2 separate regions of the Homo sapiens genome follow, and region 1 is linked to region 2. Evidence: fine-mapped expression QTL. A gene starts in region 2. The other region holds a variant in brackets. All regions are shown on one strand. Distances are from middle to middle. Region 1 has its middle 49 kb from the start of TCF3. Region 2 holds the start of LSM7 (LSM7 homolog, U6 small nuclear RNA and mRNA degradation associated).

Region 1 (2,901 bases), 630 kb before region 2:
CCCACCCCCGGCCCTGGAACCTGGGGCAGGAAGGATACTCCATGCACACCTTTCAGGGGGTCAGAGGCTGAGACGGTGCCTGGGGCAGACCCGTGGGTTGGGGTGGGGGTGCCCAGATCTTGACCCCCATCCGTATTCCCAAGGGGCAGAGATGGGACGTGACTCCTCCTGGCCCCCGCCGCCGGCCCGCAGGTGTTGGGGTCTCTGGGCTGGGTCTCCCGGCGTTGTGGCTGCTGCCGAGGGAGATGAGGCCACCCTGATCCCCGCCTGCTCCAGCCGCAGCAACCAAGGACGATCGATAGCCGAGGCGGCCGCTGGGGCTTCTCTCCTCTTGCTGTGGGGTGGGGGCTGGGTGCGGGGCAGCCAGAACTGGGGCCAGAGGTGCAGACGGGCGGGAGCATCTGCAGCCCACCGGTGTCCCTGGCTCCTGCGCGCTCTCCGTCTCTCTCTATCTCTCCGTGTCTCTCTATGTCTCTGTGGGTCTCTGTCTCTCCCTCTTAGTTTCCATTTCTTCTGCCTCTGTCTCTGTGTCTTTTTGTCTCTCTGTCTCTCTGTTTCTGCCTCTCTCTGATTGTGTCTCTTCCTATCTCTCTATCTCTGTCTTTGACTCTCTGTCTCTCTCTGCCTCTATCTCTGTTTCTGTCTCTCTGTGTCTCTCTCTGTCTCTATCTCTTCTCTATTTCACTCTCTGCCTCTCTCTGTCTGTGTCTCTGTCTTTTTCTGTCTCTTTCTCTGTCTCTCTGTGTCTCTCTCTGCCTCTATCTTTCTCTCTGTCTCTGTGTCTGTCTCTGTCTCTCTGTCTCTGCCTCTCTCTCTCTCTGTCTCTATCTCATTCTCTGTCTCTCTGTCTCCCTCTCTCCTCCTCCCTCTCTCTCTTTGCTCCCCCCTCTCCATCACAGAACCCAAAGCAGGACCTGAGATCTCCCCCAGAAGGTGCCCTGGGGAGCCCCCATCACAGCTGAGGACGGGCAGACTCAGGATCACCCCCGTGGCTCCTGGCCCCCGCCCGGCCCTGGCCGAGTCTCCTGTCCACCCAGCCTTTGTTCAAGTTTGAACCTTCCCCACACATCAGAGGCTTCAGATTTCCCCGGAGAATCCGATTTGGGCCACTCCGACGCTGCAGCTGCGTCTGTATTCCGGGCGGGTCC[C/T]GGCCCCACAGACTTCCCGCCATGGCCCACTTCCTGGCACGGGTTGGTTGGCCCCTCACCGGCTGTGAGGTGGGGTCCCTCGCCAGTGGGCAGATGAAAGCAGTCTCCCCTCCTTTCCCCAGCCCCCCGGCCGGAATCCACAGCCTCAGGTGGTGGAAAGAGCACTGTGCGGGGGGAGTCACACCCTCCCAGGTTGGAGTGTCCCTCACAGTGGGACCCTGGAGCCTCAGGGCTCTCGTCTGCAAAGTGGGGGTGAGTTTGAGGAAACAACACCATTTCCTGGAGACAGGCAAGGGCCCCTTAACGGCCAAGACACTTGCAGTACAAGAACTAGGAAACTGGGCTGGGCACGGTCGCTCACACCTGTCATCCCGGCGCTTTGGGAGGCCTAGGTGGGTGGATCACCTGAGGTCAGGAGTTCGAGACCAGTCTGTTCAAGACCAACCTGGCCAACACGGTGAAACCCCGTCTCTACTAAAAATACAAAAATTAGCTGGGCGTGGTGGTGTGCACCTGTAATTCCAGCTACTCAGAAGGCTGAGGCAGGAGAATCGCTTGAACCCGGGAGATGGAGGTTGCAGTGAGCCGAGACCACACCACTGCACCCCAGCCTGGGCAACACAGCGAGACTCCATCTCAAAAAAAAAAAAAAAACAGAAAACAAACAAAATAACTAGGAAACTGTACTTAAATGGCAAGAACAATTGAGTGAAGGTGGGGTGGAAATTCAAATCCAGCTGCAGTATCAGTATTTTCCAAAATGTCTACAATTTTCACTTGTTACCTTGGGCGAGGCACAGTGGCTCTTGTCTATAAACCCAGCTACTCAGGAGGTTGAAGCGGGAGGATCGCTTGAGCCTGGAGGTTGAGGCTGCAGTGAGCTGAGATCACACCACCGCATTCCAGTCTGGGCGACAGACGGAAACCCTGTATCTAAAGAGAAGAGAAGAGAAGAGAAGAGAAGAGAAGAGAAGAGAAGAGAAGAGAAGAGAAGAGAAGAAGAGGAAGAGAAGAGAAGAGAAGAGAAGAGAAGAGAAGAGAAGAGAAGAGAAGAGAAGAGAAGAGAAGAGAAAAGAGAAGAGAAGAGAAGAAGACACCACAGGCCAGGCGCAGTGGCTCATGCGTATAATCACAGCGCTTTGGGAGGCCAAGGTGGGAGAATTGCTTGAGCTCAGGAGTTCGAGACCACCCTGGCCAACGTAGCAAGGCCCCATCTCCAGAAGTTTTGTTTTGTTTTTTTTTTTTTTTTTGAGACGGAGTCTCATTCTGTTCGCCCAGGCTGGAGTGCAGTGGCATGATCTCGGCTCATTGCAACCTCTGCCTCCCGGGTTCAAGCGATTCTCCTGCCTCAGCCTCCCGAGTAGATGGGATTAAAGGCGCTCGCCACCATGCCCAGCTAATTTTTGTATTTTTGTAGAGACGGGGTTTCACCATATTGGCCAGGCTGGTCTCGAACTCCTGACCTCGGCCTCCCAAAGTGCTGGGATTACAGGCATGAGCCACTGCACCTGGCCGAAAATTTTTTTTAGAAAAGAAAAGGCGCAACAATGAGCATCCTTGGACATGAATCTCTTACACTCTCTGAAGTTTTTCTTCAGGACAAATTCATCCTGGAGTTGCTTGTCAAGAGACCATAAAACAAATAGTAAGGCTTTTGATACATTTTATCAAATTATCTCTGAAACTTCATAAAATACATATCCTTCCATTGTACATCAGCCTGTTCATTTACTCTCATCCATGCCAATAATGG
Region 2 (2,901 bases):
CCCTTGAGGCTGTGGTACCCTGGCTCCTGACTCACAGATCCTGTGAGATAATAAAATGGTGCTGTTTCAGCTGCTAAATGGGTGATTTGCTATGAAGGGCAGAAAACAAAGGGAAGCAGTGTGACCAGCAAGAGCGGCCGCTCACTCATGTCCTTCCATGTCCGGAGTCAGCATGGTGTAGACTGAGAAAACATTTTATTCATATTCCTTTTTCTTTTTGTTTTGAGACGGAGTCTTGCCCTATCGCCAGGCTGGAGTGCGGTGGCACAATCTCGCCTCTGGGGTTCAAGCAATTCTCCTGCCTCAGCCCCCCGAGTAGCTGGGACTACAAGCGTGCGCCACCATGCCCAGCTAACTTTTTGTATTTTAGTAGAGACAGGGTTTCACCACGTAGGCCAGGATGGTCTTGATCTCCTGACCTCCTGATCTGCCTGCCTCGGCCTCCCAAAGTGTCAAGATTAAAGGCATGAGCCACTGTGCCTGGCCTCCTTTTTCTCTTTTGAGACTGGGCCTTGCTCTGTGGCCCAGGCTGGAGTGCAGTGGTGCGGTCATAGCTCACTGCAGCCTCAAACCCTAGGGTGAAGCCACCCTCCTGCTTCAGACTCCCAAATTGCTGGGATTACACACGTGAGCCGCCCCGTCCGGCTGGGGCACTGTGATTTTTAATAACTCTCATGCCACCCAGTTGTCTACAATCCAGGGACAAAGAGGTTTGGGTCCCCGTCTTACAAAAAAAAGAAACCAAAGATCCAAGAGGCTATTGAATAAGTGACGTGTTGTCTGACTGCTTACTTCCTGCTGAGAGCTGCCTCAATTACATTACATGCCTGTAACCATTCATTCTCACCACCCCCTGTGAAGTGGGTGGAGTTACCAGCCCCATTTGACAAATGAGGAAACGGAGGCTAGGAGAAGGCAGCTCACTTGCCCAGTCAAAAATGCTAGGCTGGGCATGGTGGCTCATGCCTGAAATCCCAGCAATTTAGGGGGCTGAGGCAGGCAGATCGCTTGAGGCCAGGAGTTTGAGACCATCCTGGCCAACATGGCCTCTCTACTAAAAATACAAATATTAGCCGGGCGTGGTGGTACACATTAATTCCAGCTACTCGGGAGGCTGAGGCACAAGAATCACTTGAACCTGGGAGGCGGAGGTTGCAGTGAGCTGAGATCGCACCACTGCACTCCAGCCCGGGTGACAGAGCGAGACTGCGTCTCAAAAAAAATAATGAAAATAAATAAAAGAGGTGCTTCCGCATGCGTCCTCATCATCTCTGTTGCTGGGTTTATTTGAAATTTTTAAAGAGGGGGTACCGACAGCGGGAGCCTCCTCACCTTCGCGGCCTCCCTGGAACTTTACCCGGATCGTCTTGTCGATGTACTTGGACAAGTCCAAGATGCTCTCCTTTTTCTTCTTCTCCTTATCCTGCGGGGAAAGCAGAGCGCATGAGACCTGGAGCGCGGCCCGAGCTCCACGCCCCCCGGCTCCAGATTCCGCCGCGCGCTCACCGCCATCTTGTCGCGCCGTGTGGCTCTTCGCAGGCACCGCCCCGCGCCCTTTGACCTCCCCCACGCGCATGCGCGGCGCATGCGTGGCCCGGGGTCTCGGGGCGTTGCTGGGAAACATCTGCCGTTGGTTGCGGCGGGCACCGGCCGACATGGCGGCAGCGGTGGCGGCTGCGCTGGCGCGGCTTTTGGCGGCCTTTCTGCTCCTCGCGGCCCAGGTGAGCGCGGCACCGGTCCCGACGGCACCGCGGGCTGCGGCCCTTCGGCCTCTCTGTCCCCGGGCTACGCGCAGGAACGACCCCGCTCGGCCCGTCTTGGGGGTCCAGCCTCGGGGATCCGCCGTCCCCGCGTTGTCGGCCGGCGGTGCCGGGGCTCGGCCGTGACCTTGCGGGTCTGTCCCCGGCTCCTCTCCTTTCCCCGCCTCGGAGGCCCTCCGCCGCTGCAGCGCCACTCACTTCCCACCGGGTCTGAAATTTGTGCCCCCTCCATCCTCCGGTTCTGCTTCTCCGTTTCGGGGTCTCCAGTTGCCGCCGGGGACGCCTCTCTCCGGCTCTGTGGCCTTGAGCAGGCGGCTGCCCACCCCTCTCCGAGCCTCAGTTTCCCCTTAGGCGGAACGGGCACGGTGCTAAGCTAACCTCACCCTAGGGGGTGCGGTGGGGGAACCCAGAGGCGTCCCGCGCGTCCCCCAGTAACTGGCAGCATCCTGGAGCGGCCAGGAGTCCAGCCCTGCACTGGGGTCGGATCCCCGCTCCATCTTTTACTCCGTGACCTTGGACGATGGAATTCGTGTGCAGAAGGAGGACCGACTATGGTGTGGATTCTGGAGGTTCTGTCCAGGGTGACCAGCGCCCAGGGCCAACAGGCCTTCATTATGTTCATTGTGTGTCATTTGATGTAAAGAGTGTCAGGTTCTAGTGGGGACAGTCTACGAGATCGCACTGTCATAACTGCATCTTTTATTTTCTTAATTCCAAATCTTCCCTCTCTCCTGAGTTCGGTGGCTCAGGCAATGGAACCTGGAGCAGCCCCACAAATGCAGCCCTTAACCTTCACTACCCCCTCAGAGTTCTCACTCTTAAGGCGTCGCCGCCACCTGGCTCCTCAGTCTCCACTCCTCCAGCCCCACCGCTATCCCTCTGCTGTGGCTGCCTTTGTCCACCACATCCCCAGTCCATCCTCGACACAGCAGGGGTGACCCTTTCAAAGTATGTCAGACCGTGTCGCATCCAGATGAGTGCGCCGTCCAGTTGTGACCTGGCTGCTGGGGAAGCCTGCAGCTCATTGCAGTCGCTTCACTCTCTAGTCTTTTCTCTTACCCTGAGATGCCCCTGGTCTCTGCAAGGCTGTCGGGCCCCCTCGGAAGCTTTCTGAGAACCCCAGTCCTACCCCCAGCTGCTC

The links. PIP is the estimated chance that this variant, and not a neighbour inherited with it, causes the effect.
Region 1: its variant is fine-mapped to the expression of LSM7 in substantia nigra (GTEx, PIP 0.98).

Annotation. Positions count from the first base shown.
Region 1 is chr19:1,700,384-1,703,284 of GRCh38, forward strand. No RefSeq gene overlaps it. Among named protein-coding and RNA genes, the nearest start is that of TCF3, 49 kb to the left of the region's middle. The variant C/T (reference allele first, on the strand shown) is at 1,149.
Region 2 is chr19:2,327,055-2,329,955 of GRCh38, forward strand. LSM7 (LSM7 homolog, U6 small nuclear RNA and mRNA degradation associated) reads right to left here and starts at 1,532. Exons shown (of 4, transcript NM_016199.3): 1 at 1,507-1,532; 2 at 1,333-1,423. The coding sequence starts at 1,512. SPPL2B (signal peptide peptidase like 2B) reads left to right here and starts at 1,630. Exons shown (of 15, transcript NM_152988.3): 1 at 1,630-1,721. The coding sequence starts at 1,656. RefSeq lists silencers at 537-636, 1,657-1,916 and enhancers at 907-966, 1,247-1,901, 1,337-1,386, 1,397-1,446.